Linked DNA regions of Homo sapiens: regions 1 and 2 are each linked to region 3. A link means that fine-mapping ties the variant in region 3 to the plasma level of a protein whose gene starts in the linked region. Region 3 holds a variant in brackets. A gene starts in each other region. All regions are shown on their reverse strands.

Region 1 (5,342 bases), not on the chromosome of region 3:
CCTGTCTCTACTAAAAATACAAAATTAGGTGGGTGTGGTAGCACACGCCTGTAATTCCAGCTACTCGGAAGGCTGAGGGAGGAGAATCGCTTGAACCCAGGAGGCGGAGGTTGCAGTGAGCCAAGATTGCGCCATTGCACTCCAGCCTGGGCAACAAGAGCAAAATTCCATCTCAAAAAAAAAATTATATTATAAAGCCTGTTAATCTTCTGGTCTTTCGTCTTCACTTTTAATTTTATTTATATTTTGATTAGACACGGTATTCACATGGTTCAAGATTCAAGAGAACAAAAGGATATGCTGAAAAATGCGTTTCCCACCCTGTTCTCCAGCTCCAGTTTCCTTCCTGGGAAACAACTCGTGTTATCAGCGCGTGCACATATAAAAGCAAATTGTGTGTCTCTGTGCTTTTTCCATTTAAGTACAATTGATAAACGACTTGAACACGGCTCTGCGTCTAGGTTTTATTACTAAACAACCTGTCCTGGGGAGCGTTCTGTAAGGAGAATCCTAGTTATTTTTGATAGCCATATGCATTCCATTGCAGGGCATACAATAATCATTCATTTATCCCATCTCTATTGGTGGACATTTAGGTTGTCTCCAGCTATTAGATTGGTGCAAAAGTCATTGTGGTTTTGGCTCAATGTTGCAGCGATGCAGTGGAAAGCCTTGTGTATTCCTTTCACTTACGTGTGAGCATTATCTGTAGGATAAATTTCTGGAAGTGCCAAGTCAAACAGGACATGTGTTTATATGTTTGATAAATACTGCCCAAATATTCTCTTTTGAGGTCGAGTCAGTCTACACACCAACCAGCAATGCAGGGGGTTGCCTGTTTTCCTCCCACCCTTGCGAATAGTGTGTTACCAAACTTTTTTTTTTTTTTTTGAGACAGGGACTCACTCTATCGCTCTGGCTGGAGTGCAGTGACACGATCATGGCTCACTGCAGCCTTGACTTTTCAGGCTCAAGCAATCCTCCCACCTCATTCTTCCAAGTAGCTGGGACTACAGGCACGTGCCACCACGCCTGGCTAATTTTTTTTTTTTGGTAGAGACAGGGTTTTGCCACGTGGCCCAGGCTGGTCTCGAACACCTGGTTTTAAGTGATTCTCCTGCCTCAGCCTCCCAAAGTGCTGGAATTACAGACATGAGCCACTGTGCCTGACCTACCAAACTGCTTTTTATCTTTGCTGATCTGGTAAGTGAAGAATAGTATCTTTTGTAGTTATAATTTTCATTTTCTTAATAAGTGAGTTATTGAACATCTTTTTACATGTTTATGAGCCCATGAATTTTCTTTCTGCAGGAGCAAGCACTGTCTCTTCATCTTTTTTTTCACAGGGGGTGGACAGAGTCTCTCTCTGTTACCCAGGCTGGAGTGTAGTGGCGCAATCTCGGCTCACTGCAACCTCCACCTCCCGGGTTCAAGCGATTCTCCTGCCTCAACCTCCCCAGTAGCTGGGATTACAGGCACCCACCACCATGCCCACCCAATTTTTGTATTTTTAGTAGAGACAGGGTTTCACTGCATTGGCCAGGCTGGTCTCGAACTCCTGACCTCGTAATCTGCCTGCCTTGGCCTCCCAAAGTGCTGGGATTACAAGCATGAGCCACCACGCCCAGCCCACTTAGGCTATTTCTGATTTTCCAGTATTATAAGTAATACTGCAGTGAAAAGCCTTGCATATAAATATTCTATTTCCTTAGGCTAAATTTATTTATTTTTTTGAGACAGTCTTGCTCTGTAGTCGAGGCTGGAGTGCAGTCATGTGATCTCAGCTCACTGAAGCCTCTGCCTCCCAGGTTCAAGCGATTCTCGTGCCTCAGCCTCCCAAGTAGGTGGGACCACAGGCATGCGCCACCACACCTGGCTGATTTTTGTGTTTTAGTACAGACACAGTTTCACCAGGTTGCCCAGGCTGGCCTTGAATTCCCGACCTCAAGTGATCCACCTGCCTTACAGGCATGAGCCACCACGCCCAGCCTCTTCAGGCTAAATTTCTGAAAGTGATCTTCATTCCTAACCCCAAACTGCCCTCCAGAAAGCTGGGTTGCACTTCTGCCACAGCAGGATCTTTACTCCTCTTAAAATCTCCGCGGAGCCTGGGTGGGAGAGGCAGAGCTCCGGGGGGAAGATTCTCTCCTGGCCTGATGTAGTGTTTTCCTTGGCTTGTCAGACATGGAGGAGATTATGCCAGATATGATAGTGGAGAGAGTCAGACATGCATGAGACTGGAGAGAGAAAAAAAACAAAATAGCCTCTGAGGTCTCACTCACAGCCTACTTACTCTTACTTTACACACAATTCTATATTCCGATATGTTTGTGACCTGGTTTTTAAGAGTACAGAGCAAATTAGGAAGGAGAAGCAAGGCTGCTACCTAGAGGTACCCTGGTCCTCCATGAAGTTTCCAAAAGAAGAGCAAGTGCAAGTAAAATAATAAAACACAGCCAGTCACAAAGCCATCAATTTGGACCATGCAGTGCAAGGCTTTAACTGTCCCAAGGATTCCAATCATGGATAAGGAAGAGCTTAAATTTGATTATAAATCTGAAAGTCTGGAAGTCAGCTTGAATATTGTGGTAGACATAATCATATCCTCCTCCTCAAAAGATGCCCTGGTTCTAATGCCCAGAATCTGTGAATATGTTATGCTACCCCACGAAGGGAAATTACAGTTGCAGGTGGAATTCAAGTTGCCAATCCATTGATTTAAAATAGAAAGATTACCCTGGATTATCTGGGTAGGCCCGATGTAATCACAAAGATGCTCACCAGTGGAAGCAAGAGGCAGAACAGTTGGTGTCAGAGTGACAGATTGTGAGAGACTGGTGGGCCACTGCTGGCTTTGAAGATGGATGGGGCCACCAGCCAAGGAATGTGGGCAGCTTCTAGAAGCCAGAAAAGCCAAAGAAACAGGTTCCCTTCCAGCCTCAAGAAAGCTGTATCCCTCAACCCCCTTGCTTTTAGTCCAGCGAGACCCATTTTGGACTTCTGATTTTACAAAACTTGTAAGATAGTAAATTAGTGTTGTTTTATGTTTGTGTTACGGCAGCCACAGGGAACCAATACAAATATTATCTGGTACCGCCCATTAAAGCTGCTCAGAGACAGGGAGCCCCACCCTGGCGGGGCTCCGGTGGCTGCACAACCTCTGCAAGCAGGATCAAGATGAGAGGCGCAGGCCAGGTGTGGTGGCTCACTCCTGTAATCTCAGCACTTTGGGAGGCCAAGGCGGGCGGATCACTTGAGGTCAGGAGTTCGAGACGAGCCTTACATGGTGAAACCCTGTCTCTACTAAAACTCCAAAAATTAACCAGGCGTGGTGGCGTGCACCTGTAGTCCCAGCTACTCGGGAGGCTGAGGCAGGAGAATCGCTTGAACCCAGGAGGAGGAAGTTGCAGTGAGCGGAGAAAGTGCCACTGCACTCCAGCGTGAGCGACAGAGCGAGACTCTGTCTCAAAAACAAATAAAGGAAAAAGAAAAAAATGAGAAGCGCGTGTTCCCGACTCCGGTGCTTTTTCGCAAGGTCGTGCTACTGCGCCTTCTGAACTACGAGTCCCAGGTACCAAGAAAGTTGAATTGCGTGCTGTGGCGGGTCCGTTATCTGCACCACCCGTCTGCACGGGATGCGCTGGCTTCCTGCCCCGGATGCACAAGGCTCCCTGCGGGACACTCAGGGCGAGGCTCTGAGCCCCTCCCCCGCGGCAGATGCCGTCCAGATGTGGCCGGCGGGTCCCGCGGGCTGCGGCGACAGGGACCCCGTCGGGGGCAGCAGGAGCCCTGGTGCATCCCAGGCCCCGGGGGGAAGGCCGGGCCGTCGGAGGAGCGGAGGAGCCCTGGGGGGCTCCCGGGAAGCCGCGGGCGGACGGGGGAGGAGCCCGGGCGGAGCTGCGGGCGGGCGGCCCGCTAGGGGTGAATCGGGTGGAGTAGTGGTCGGGTCCGGTTACTTCCCTTTAAAAAGACGGGAAAGGAGGAGTCCAGTGCTGGAGGGGCAGGGACGGCGGCGGCGCAGCTCGGAACCCGCCAGGGTCCAGGGTCCAGGTTCCAGCGCCCGGCGGCCCAGGCAAGTGGGGCGGGAGGGCGGGGGCTGCGGGCGCGGGTAGGGGTCGTGGGGCAGTTGGGTGCGCGGGAACCGAGGGAGCTGCAGACCCAGCGCTTGGCGCGTGCGGAGCTGGACTTCTGCGGCCGCGACGCCCCTCTTCCCAGATGGGTAAACTGAGGGCCAGGGAAAGCGAAGAATTCTTTTGGCCGAGCTCCCACTACGATCTCGCGGTCAAGTGGGTCCCCAGCGGGCCTCGCAGGGGTCGGAGGGGCTCCCATCTGGGGAGGGGGCCCCAGGGTGGGCGAGGGCGACGGGAGCCTGGGGAGGACGGACGGGGAGGGCGGCGGAGCGGAGCTAAGCTGCGGCGGGTGGACCCGGCTCGGCCGCGGCCACTCTGTCCCTGGTGGGTGGGGCGCGGCCGAAGGCAAAGGGCGAACCCGGCCCGCCTGTGGGGTCTCTGGCCAACACTGGGCTCAGAGGCCCTTTCTTTAACCTTAGATCTCGCTCCTCGGTCTAAAGCCTCCGCCGCAGCTCTCAGTGAAGAGGAAGGGGAACTCTAGGTGCTCAACGCCCGCGTTACAGTCGCGTTCTCCCTCGCTCCTACAACCCGGCCAAGATGCCGGGGCATGGATGGGGACCGAGGTTTGGGGGTTGTGGAGCCTATTCCACGCCCTCCCTGGTGAGCAACTGAGACAGATCCAGGGCCCCATTGCAATCCACTCTTGGTCTGGGAAAAGGTCCCCTAAACAGGGCCAATGGGATCCTTTCCCCAAATGACTCCAGAACGCACCCCCCCCCCCCAGCAGTGCGGTGGGCAGGGACGGCCCAGGTGGGCTATGTCCTGGGGTTTTGTGACTGGATCCCCACTCCTCCCCCACCTCAGCCCCTGGACTGCAACCCACCAGGCCGTGTTCGGGGGTGGTCAGAGCCCTGGTCTCAGCCAGACCTGAGGTCTGATGTGGCTTCATCCCTGAGTCTCTAAACGCCCTGGCCTTACTGGGCCTCAGTTAATTCACCTGTGAAAGGGGAGGCTTGGACCAGAGGGCCCCTCAGGGTATGTGTTTTGTGGAGGGGAGGTGGGCGTGTGGGGTAGGGGTGACCAGGAGGAAGTGGGGACAGCCTCTGTCCCACAGGAAGGCTGGCTAGCCCCAGTGGGTATGGGGGAGCTGGGCAGGGAAGAGGGTGGACTCCCCTCTCCCTGTGGGAGGGTGTGCTGGGCCCATGAGGCCCTCATCCACTCTCAGCCACCTTCCTGTGGAGCCCTAGCCTCGAAGGCCACACTATGAGTGCA
Region 2 (5,000 bases), not on the chromosome of region 3:
AAGAAAAAAAGAAGCATAAAACATGTGTCCCATCTCTAACACTAGCCTTGGGAAAATCAGGATCGACATTTCTTACATATAAAATTGGCTGGGTGCGGCGACTCACGCCTGTAATCCCAGCACTTTGGGAAGCCAAGGAGGGAGAATCACTTGAGGTCAGGAGTTCGAGACCAGCCTGGTCATCATGGCGAAACCCCGTCTCTACCAAAAATTCAAAAATTAGCCAGGCGTGGTGGTGCATGCATGCAGCCTCAGCTACTCGGGAGTCTGAGGCAGGAGAATCACTTGAACCCAGGAGGCGGAGGTTGCAGTGAGCTGAGATCGCGCCACTGCACTCCAGCCTGGGCGACAAAGCAAGACTCTGCCTCAAAAAAAAAAAAAAAAAAAGGCAATAATCAGGCTCTTTCCTTTTTAAGGGAAAACATACAATAATAAACTTTTCTTACTGAGTTATGAGGATAAAATAAGATATAAGAAGCAAAGTAACTTTATAAACAGAAATGAGTCTTATTCTGTTATGCTCACTGGCTGAACAGAGCAGCATTAAAATTCACATTCAACAACCCTCGGAGTTTTGCCTGCATTACCATATACTTTAAAGTAAAATTGAGGCTCGGTGCTAGCTCTCAAATGCATCACTTTATGTCCATATTTTCCCAAAGTGTGAAACATGCCAGTGTGGTACCTACAAAATATTAAGTGGCTTATGGATATGCAGCAAATAACCCCATGTAGTAAGGGGTACTCTTTCAAAATCTCTTGCAATCTCTTTCATTAAGGAAGATAACTCCATTTACAGCTGGTATAGCCTTAACACTTTCCCAACACTTGCTAATTTCCCCTTTGTAACAGAAAGACAGTATTTAATACAATTTCATAACTTTTTAATTTGTTTGTTTTTTTTTAATGATTACTCACCCATTTGTGGCAAGTGGCACTGGCTTCCCATTCACCATAAGGATTTTGTTTCAAGGAAATTAATTTAATTTTTAAATGGGACATAGCTATACAAAAAAACACATCTAGTAATCAAAAGTTCAAGCAGTACTGCCATTAGGCAAAAATCCCGAAAGTGGTACACGGTAATTTAACGTTGAGAAAACGACTTCATGAAATTTCTTTTTTTTTTTTTTTTTTGCGCGGGGGAGACAAAGTCTCGCTCTGACGCCCAGGTTGCAGTGCAGTGGTGCAATCTCGCCTCAAAGCAATCTCTGCCTCCCGGGTTCAAGCGATTCTCCTGTCTCAGCCTCCTGAGTAGCTGGGATTACAGGCACCTGCCATCACGCCTGGCAAATTTTTGTATTTTTAGTAGAGGCGGGGTTTCACCATGTTGGCCAGGCTGGTCTCAAACTCCTGACCTCAGGGGATCCTCCAGCCTCGGCCTCCCAAAGTGCTGAGATTATAGGCCGGAGCCACCGCGCCCGGGCTCATGACAATTTTCTAAGGCAGCACAGATGAAACAAGGAAAGCAGGAACCAGGGTCCAAAACCATGTCTCTCTACTCTAAATTCGATGCTCCTTCCACTACACTGATGGCTTTCACAGTTTACAGTGCATGCAAATCACCTAAAGGTCCTGTTCACAGATCACAGATACCGACCAAGTAGGTCGGGGTGGGGCCCGAGAATCTGTATTTCTAGCGAGCGCCCAGAAGTAGCGGAGGCTGCTGGTCGTCGGGCTACCCTTTGCCTGGCAAGGCCCTGGGCAAAGACTACAAAGAGAGAGACTCCCGGAGACGCTGAATTTTCAGTGTCGCCAACTGTCCTCGACTCGGAACGCTGGCCGCACCTGCCGTGACATCACTGCACAGGGGTGCAATTGCGTCACTCCCCAGGCGTCACTGCCGAAACAACCCCTGTCCTCCTGTCACTCTCGCCGCTAACTACAGACCCCGCCCCGCCCGCCAGCGCCCCGGAGGCCGAAGTCACGCAGTCGCGCTCCGTCGCAGGCCTGTGACGTTACGAACCTCTCCCCCGTGACCTCTTCGACCCAAACCTCAAGCGAAAATTCCCTAGCTCGCTAGACCGGCGCAGGACTGTGACTGCGCGCCTCCTTTTACCTGAGAGGGACCGCCGGGCCCCCGGGCGCAGCCGCCAAAGGCGGGGAGCCGCCGCCGCCCCGGCGCAACTCATTGCCGGAACTAAAAAAAGCAACCACTTCGTTGAACGGAACTGGCCAATAGTGCCCTTGGCTCGGACTGATGACGCACAGCAGACGTAAGGAAGGCTCAGCTCGCCCGCGCACCGGTGGGAACGCCCCCTAGCTCTGCGCTAGGGGTTAGATTGGTTAGATACGACAAATAAAAAGATTTTATTGGGTGGGGTCACTGTCAATCACTCGGAAGACCAAGGCCAAGGCGCCTTGGGTTGCCAGGGAGATGAAAATGCTAAATTGCTGTTTAGAAAGATCAGGACAAGGTTATGATTTCTCACCCAAGTTCCTGGGGAAAAGGATCATGAGGGAATTACTTATTAACAAGGCACGGTATTTCCTGCTTTACCTACGTGGAAGGAGATTTTTTTTTTTATTTGTATCCTACATCTACTTTAAAATAGTAAGCCTGGGCAACATAGCGAGACCCCGCCTCTACAAATAATTTTAAAAATTAGCCGGGTCTGGTGGAGCACACCTGTAGTCCCAGCTACTCGGGAGGCTGAGGTGGGGGGATAGCTTGAGCCCGGTAGCTCGAGGCTGCAGTCAGCCGTGATTCTGCCACTGCACTCTAGCCTGGGCCCTGTCTGAAAAATAAATAAATAAATAAAATTATATGTATATCTAAATTACATGCACCACATGGTTAATGGTGTTATATAGTGTTATCTCTATTGGTGGGCTGAAAGCCAACTTTAAACTTCTTCCCGGTCTTTTCTCTATTTTCAGAAACAGAGAACATGTTTTATCCTTGGTATCCACCTTAATGTACTGTGTGCATGTATGCATGTATATTTGTGCAAATTGGAATTTTTTGAGAAGGGAGGGGAAATTTAGCAACATACTTTAAAAAGATCATATAATACAGCAGTCTTACTTTTAGGAATCTACTCAACGAAATAATTTTTAAATGAGTAATGTACATGAGGGCAAAAATCAAAGATGCGTGTCTGCAAGGATATACAACGTTTAATATTGGCAACATCAGGGGGCTGGAACTGGGAGAAGGGAGCTTTCACTTTCTACTTTACACCCTTGGATTATTTATATACTTTATCCAAGTTTACCATAAAATATTTTAAGATGGAATACAATTGTAAAATTATTGAATTCAAGTTTTTAGTTTTTATATCACTCTAGTGTTCAAATTGACACACCAAAATAATTTAAAATTATGATGAACCCAAATACTACTTAGTGAGGATGTTGTAGCACTCTCATGTAAAACTACTGAGTGTCTGAATCTGGCGCTCAAAAGCCTTAAAATGTTCAAAACCTTTGCTGTAATACCACTTCTAGGTCTCTGTTTCCTTTTTGTTTTGTTTTTTGTTTTTGTTCTTTTTAAATGGAGTTTCACTCTGTCGCACAGGCTGGATTGCAGTGGGGAGACCTTGGCTCACTGGAACCTCTGCCTCCCGGGTTCAAGCGATTCTCCTGCCTCAGCCTCCCAAGTAGATGGGATTACAGGTACACACACCACCACGCCCAGCTGAGACTGGGTTTCGCTGTGTTGGCCAGGCTGGTCTCAAATTCCTGACCTCAAGTGATCCTCCCACCTTGTCCTCCCAAAGTGCTGGGATTATAGGCGTGAGCCGCCACGCCTGGCCTAGGTCTCTGTTTCTAAGGAGAAAAAATGTTGACAAAGATTTATAGATGTGCCCATTATTTATTACTGGGAAAATTTGGAAACAAAATGTTAAGCAACAATTGAATATCAAAACATCATGTCCGAGTGCAGTGGCTCACGCCTGTAATCCCAACACTTTGGGAGACTGAGGCGAGAGGATCACTTGAGCCCAGGAGTTCAAGACCAGCCTGGGCAACACAGTGAGATTCCATCTCTACAAAAAATTTTAAAAATTAGTCAGGCATGGTGGTGTGTGCCTCTGATCCCACCTACTTGTGAGGCTAAAAGGATCACTTGAGCCCAGGAGGTTGAGGCTGCACTGAGCCATGATCACACCACTGCACTCCAGAGTGGGTGATAGACCTAGACTCTGGCTCAAAAAAAAAAAAAAAAATCCAACTGTATGATGTTATGTAGCCCATTGAAATGTTTGTAAAGAGCTTTTAATAACAGGAGAAAACACTAGATTCTTCAGGAAAACACATATTAAGTGAAAAAGAAATTAGAATACCAAAGTTCTTTCCTTCTTTTTCCTTCTTTTTCCCTCCCTCTGTACTTTCTATCTTAAAAAGAATTTTGCCAGGATTAACAGTGCGTGCCCATAAGTGCTGCTTTTTAAGTTTTTTTCTCTGTTGCTTTTGATGTTCTCTGTATTTGCTATAAAAAACAAGTATTTTTATAATGGCAAAACAAAATTTAAAAAACAAAAATGCATACTATTCCCTAATTCCATCCCCCTACCCACCAAATTATCCATTAAAAAAACTAGTTCCAGCCAGGCACGGAGGCTCACCCCTGTAATCCCAGACTTTGGGAGGCCGAAGTGGAAGGATCACTTGAGGTCAGCAGTTCAAGACCAGCCTGACCAACAGGGCAAAACCCCATCTCTACTAAAAGTACAAAAATTAGCTGGGCATGGTGGCACACACCTGTAGTCCCAGCTACTTGGGAGGCTGAGGCAGGAGAATCACTTGAACCCAGGTTGCAGTGAGCCGAGATCGCACTACTGCACTCCAGCCTGGGCAATAGAGTGAGACTACATCTCAAAAAAAAAAAAAAAAAAAAACACAGCCAGGCACAGTGGCTCACGCCTGTAATCCCAGCACTTTGGGAGGCCGAGGCGGGCAGATCATGAGGTCAGGAGATCAAGACCATCCTGATGAAACCCTGTCTCTATTAAAAATACAAAAAATTAGCCGGGTGTGGTGGTGGGCGCCTGTAG
Region 3 (5,000 bases):
GTCAGTGAAAGAAGTTTGACTCCTGGTCAGGAGCACCCTCCACCGGCCAGCTCCTTCCTTTCCCTGGCTTCTATGACCTCCTCAGCGGCCCTTCTGAAGGAGGTGGCCGCAAGGGCTGCGGGCAGTCTTCTGGCTGAGAAATCATCGCTGCTGCCTGAGGACCCTCTACCGCCCCCGCCTTCAGAGAAGAAACCAGAAAAAGTCACTCCGCCACCTCCACCGCCACCTCCACCACCTCCACCACCACCACCACAATCCCTGGAATTATTATTACTCCCAGTTCCTAAGGGAAGAGTTTCTAAACCCTCCAATTCAGGTATGGCATCTTTTCTTTCAATCATCGTGTAAGTCCTTTAGACTATAAACTGCGATGTCTTATTCATTGCTTTTTTCAGTTGGGTTCCCCATCTGATCTGAGGCAGGAATAAAAAAGCAAGAGCACAACAAAAATACTTTAAGTAAGCAGCATAGTAGTCTTTCATGTACGTATTACACAAAGACTTCACAAATAGCTTCACTTTTGAAAGGTAATGAATAATCTTAGAGACATACAGCATTCCCTCCCTTTCATACAAATGATTTTTTTTTCTTACTAAGTTCAGGCTAGGTCCATACAAGATATATTTAATGGGAGAAGATCAAAGCATCTTTGTCATGGAGTGCATGGCATCACTGAACATAAGGGGAAAAAAACCCACTGCTTTTGAAATAGTGGACAAGGGAGAGCCCACACTCCTGCTGCCTCCATCACAAATGGACTTTTGTACAATCAGGAACTACTCTGCCCTAATTTATCACACCATATACTTTTATGTTAGCATTTTTATTACTTTTTGTGGAATTTAAGCCCTTTTCACGTATCCTATTCTCCTACAATTTCTTGTCCTATAAGAACTCAAAAAGATTGTCAATCAAACATAATCAACACATTTCCTGTGAATGCTTTATTTAATTCAAATCCAATCCAATTTTGAAGGAATGTGCATGTGGAAAATTTGAATCCTAAGGTTTTTCTAGTGGAGGCAGTCTTTCCAAAGGAGAAATCGCTGTCATATAGGACCTTAGCATTCACAATTATTCATCTGAGGGAGAAATTTAGTCACTTGAATTCTCACAGTGGAAACACCATTTCTTGTTCTGGTTTGCTTTAAAATTGTGTACATGATAAATACACGTTCCTGGGATGCGTGTTGGGGTTTCAGATGTCTCTTAAGGATATCCTGCCAGACTGGAGCAGGAAGTAGGCTATGTGCATCCTCATCGGTACAAACATTGCCATCGTGTGTGTCTAGCCAACTTTTGATTATTTTCAGCAACAATGATGAAGAGGGTTTGGAATGGCAAATAATTGACGGAACGATCACAGTTAATGTCAATTTGATGCATTTATGACAAATTTCCATTTAAATGGCTGAGTGAGCTATATTCACTAATTATAAGTACTTCAAAACTTGAGTCAACAGCAGAAGACAACGAGGAAAATGGGTATCTGGGACTTTTATGACTCTTGGTGATCCAAACTGTTCTCTCCAGAGTTTCTGAAATGTCAGTAAAATCCTAGGATGTTGTCAATTCTAAGTTCCACTTCTCCTCTCTTCTCACCTGCCATCTGGTGAAATAAGGAGAGAAATGGGTAAAATTAGGAAACAAGGAGAAGAGCAAAGGAGGCTGGGGTAGTTCTACGATGGAAAAAATCACTCCTGACTTATAGAAATTTCATTTAGGGATAGCAGTAGAAAGAGAGGTATGGCTGTATATAAAATAAAATTTTAGGCCGGGCGCAGTGGCTCACACCTGTAATCCTAGCACTTTGAGGGGCCAAGGCGGGTGGGTCACCTGAGGTCAGGGGGTCAAGACCATCCTGACCAATATGGTGAAACTCCGTCTCTACTAAAAATACAAAAATTAACCAGGCGTGGTGGTGTGCGCCTGTAATCCCAGCTACTTGGGAGGCTGAGGCAGGAGAATTGCTTGAACCCGGGAGGCAGAGGTTGCAGTGAGCTGAGATCGTGTCACTGCAGTCCAGCCTGGATGAGACTCTGTCTCAAAAAAATAAAAATAAAAAAAAGAAAATAATAATTATATATATGTATATTCTGCATATCTAGTTATTGAATAAATGTGTGAATGGCGTTTCTAGTATACAATTCATCTGGACATTTGTTAGTTGGGAAAGCTTATGCAAAGTTAATAATAAACTTTAGTTGATTGAAGACTTGGAAA[G/T]AAGTGACTGATAAAACCATGTTTCCTGAAGCCCAGACTGTAGCAGCTTTGTCATATTGAAGTCTCCGGTATAACCAGCAATGGTTGTGAATATAATTTTTTTCACTCAAACGACCAGATACATGTAAAGATGAGAAAGAGGTCATGAGCTTCCAGTGAATGGTAGACTTTTTGTTTGTTTTGTTGTGGGAAATACACCCAAGGGAAAAGCTATGTTCCTTTTTGGTTTAAATACACTTAATCTATGCCAGCAACTCAGTGGGGTTCTCAGAATAATTGAATATGGGAGATCTATAAGAAATCGTTTCTTACTTTGCTTTTTACTATATTTATTATATTGCTGAAACACTTAATATTTTAATCAAGGGATGTTCAGAATGTTCAAACTGAAAGAGGAGGGAAAGGAACTTCTCAGCTTTGGGTTATAGAACCCTGTGCTGATTGACTTGTACCTAAGGCCTCCCCACCCCAACTCTCCCATTTCAACATGCCTCTGTTCAGTCTAAGACTTGAAGAAGCAGCTTCATCAGCAGAGTAATTTTATTTAAAAAATCTTTCATTTTGTAAAACTCATGCATGAGGAAAGATCACTGCCAAGAAAATGAGGGTCCTTGAAATTGTTACCCGAAAAATATTCCATACGTCCACGTGGGCCCATCCTACGTTCAAGTTCTGTTTGTTATTGCATGGCTTGGAAACAGAAGAGGGGATGCCCTCACTCTTTTCAGTTAAAGTGAATGTCATCACTTCCCAGCAGCCTAGCTAGATTATGGGTTAATAAGGAGTTCACAGAGTATCTAATTTTGTTATTTGTCTTTGTATCATGGGTACATGATTTGGTGTTACTGGGGATCACTGATTTTGGCATCTGAGGAGTGGAAGGAAAGGTGGATCATCTCCATCTGTCCCCTCTACCCTCCCCAACTCCCTTTTCTTCCCTCCCCCTCCCTCCCCCACCTTCCACACATTATACTGTTGGTTTGGGGGCCACCTGGGGCTGGATTGGGATGTACCTTCGATTTATCTAAGAAGCATTATGGAAATGTGGTGAGAGTCATCACCCCTGTATGGGAACATTTGTCATTATTATTCTTTCCTCTCCCTTAGAAGGAAATCTTAGTTTAATTCAAAATACGTAGGTGCATTGGCCTCTCACAGCAGGGAAAAGAGTTTCTGTTGCCTAATGACTTAAGTAAACAAATAATAACCGCCCCCAAGAACAACAACAAAAAGCCACAAAAATAAACTACACACCATCCTGATTTCAGGCAGGGCTTTCATTTTTAAAAAGCGATTTCTCAAAATGCGCAAGAAAAAAGCATATAAAGTTGATTCTTAAGTTACAAAGAGATATGTGCTAGAAAAGCTGATCCCGCCTTGAGTAATTTAGACACCACCATTTCTTTGACCTTCTTTAGGTCAAGGGAAGTCCAAACCATGAAAAAAAAATTGTCTTTTAGGTTTGGCCTTATTCTTCTTTTTTGAACAGGATTCAGTGGTTGCCAGGTCATGGTGTATTTAATTCCTTAAGAGTCCACCACTCGATAGCCTTTCCGCCCTGCAAGAGAGACGTGACACTTGAGGGGGAGGTTTCTTTCATGTGACCCTGCGCCCCCAGCACATGCTACACGGCTCCTCTGAAAGGGGACACGATAGAGGGAAGATTATGTCCGTTTGCTATAAAGATAAATGTCACACATTGACTGAATTCTCTTTGAAGCTACTGTTCTGTTGCAGCTAAGAATAAAATAAATGGTTTTTATTTTAAAGACAAAGTTTCTTGTAGAAGGCCAACAAGATTCCCAGGATGCCAGACTCCTGTTTAAAAGAAATAACAGGGAGAGTTTCAGAGAGAGGGTCTCCAAAACATCTTATTGTACTGAATAAAATGTAAATATTCTTAGAAGCAAACCTGGTCTCATACAGCTGAGAACTAAGAATATTTCCTGTGGGTCAATACATAGGGGGTTTCTGGCTGCTGTTTTCTTTAATATTTATGTGATGTTATTAAAATTATTGCAAAAGCATACAAAGTCCGGAGAGGGAGATCACCTCTCCTGATACTCCCATTAGGCCCGTGGTTATTATAATAAATCTTTTGTTTGTGACAGCGTCTGGCTCTATAGCCCAGGCTAGAGTGCGGTGGTGCGATCTCGGCTCACTGCAGCCTCCGCCTCCCGGGTTCAAGCAATTCTTGTGCCTGAGCCTCCTGAGAAGCTGGGACTACAGGCATGCACCACCACACCCGACTAATTTTTGTATTTTTAGTAGAGATGGGGTTTCGCCATGTTAGTAAGGCTGGTCTCGAACTTCTGGCCTCAAGTGATCCACCCTACTCAGGCCCCCAAAGTGCTGGGATTACAGGCATGAAGCACAGGACCCGGCCATAAGTCTCAATAAGCCTTAATCTGAGAATGATCCCATATATGAACTTGTTTAGAAAATTCACTTTTTAACCTAGATTTTTAGAACTGTCCGTCATTAATCTCAATTGTATTTTCGCAGTGATTTAAACTTAGTATGGCTATAGATATCAGACTTCTCTGAATATTTACTAGTTAAAATAGGCATTAATAAAGTCAGCATCCATAATAACAGATAAACCCAGGGACATCCATTGCTAACCTAGGCTTTTTTTGTTGCCATGAAATAGCATTTGAGACACATAACAAAGAAATTCTGTTAAAAGATTTAAAGTCCATGTGTATTGTTAGGAAGGAAGATAGGTCGTCATCCTACACAGATGTGTACCGGTAATGTTAGTAGGTCCAGAATGG

Direction of the effects. Positions count from the first base shown, and alleles are read on the strand shown. Strength reflects both the effect of a copy and how common the allele is.
With allele G in place of T in region 3, the plasma level of the protein whose gene starts at base 3,992 in region 1 is lower (weak association).
For the plasma level of the protein whose gene starts at base 2,183 in region 2, T is the high allele of the variant in region 3 and G is the other (moderate association).

The links. A credible set is the group of variants that fine-mapping cannot tell apart. PIP is the posterior inclusion probability: the model's chance that the variant is causal. The UK Biobank Pharma Proteomics Project read protein levels with antibody pairs (Olink). The fine-mapping took linkage between variants from a reference panel, not from the people measured, so its PIPs are less certain.
Region 1: it holds the start of ANPEP, and the variant in region 3 is the best candidate, but not a certain one, in a credible set for the plasma level of the ANPEP protein (UK Biobank, PIP 0.86).
Region 2: COQ7 starts here. The variant in region 3 is the best candidate, but not a certain one, in a credible set for the plasma level of the COQ7 protein (UK Biobank, PIP 0.58).

What each region holds. Positions count from the first base shown.
Region 1 is chr15:89,813,502-89,818,843 of GRCh38, reverse strand. ANPEP (alanyl aminopeptidase, membrane) reads left to right here and starts at 3,992. Exons shown (of 21, transcript NM_001150.3): 1 at 3,992-4,072. RefSeq lists cis regulatory regions at 3,609-3,611, 3,629-3,658, 3,657-3,660, 3,568-3,696, 3,948-3,953, promoters at 3,568-4,056, 2,902-4,056 and an enhancer at 3,924-4,423.
Region 2 is chr16:19,064,797-19,069,796 of GRCh38, reverse strand. COQ7 (coenzyme Q7, hydroxylase) reads right to left here and starts at 2,183. Exons shown (of 6, transcript NM_016138.5): 1 at 2,060-2,183. The coding sequence starts at 2,132. COQ7-DT (COQ7 divergent transcript) reads left to right here and starts at 2,106. Exons shown (of 3, transcript NR_119381.1): 1 at 2,106-2,216. RefSeq lists an enhancer at 1,820-1,969 and a silencer at 2,000-2,159.
Region 3 is chr4:145,897,482-145,902,481 of GRCh38, reverse strand. It overlaps ZNF827 (zinc finger protein 827), which reads left to right. Exons shown (of 15, transcript NM_001306215.2): 2 at 1-316. Among named protein-coding and RNA genes, the nearest start is that of ZNF827, 39 kb to the left of the region's middle. The variant G/T (reference allele first, on the strand shown) is at 2,224.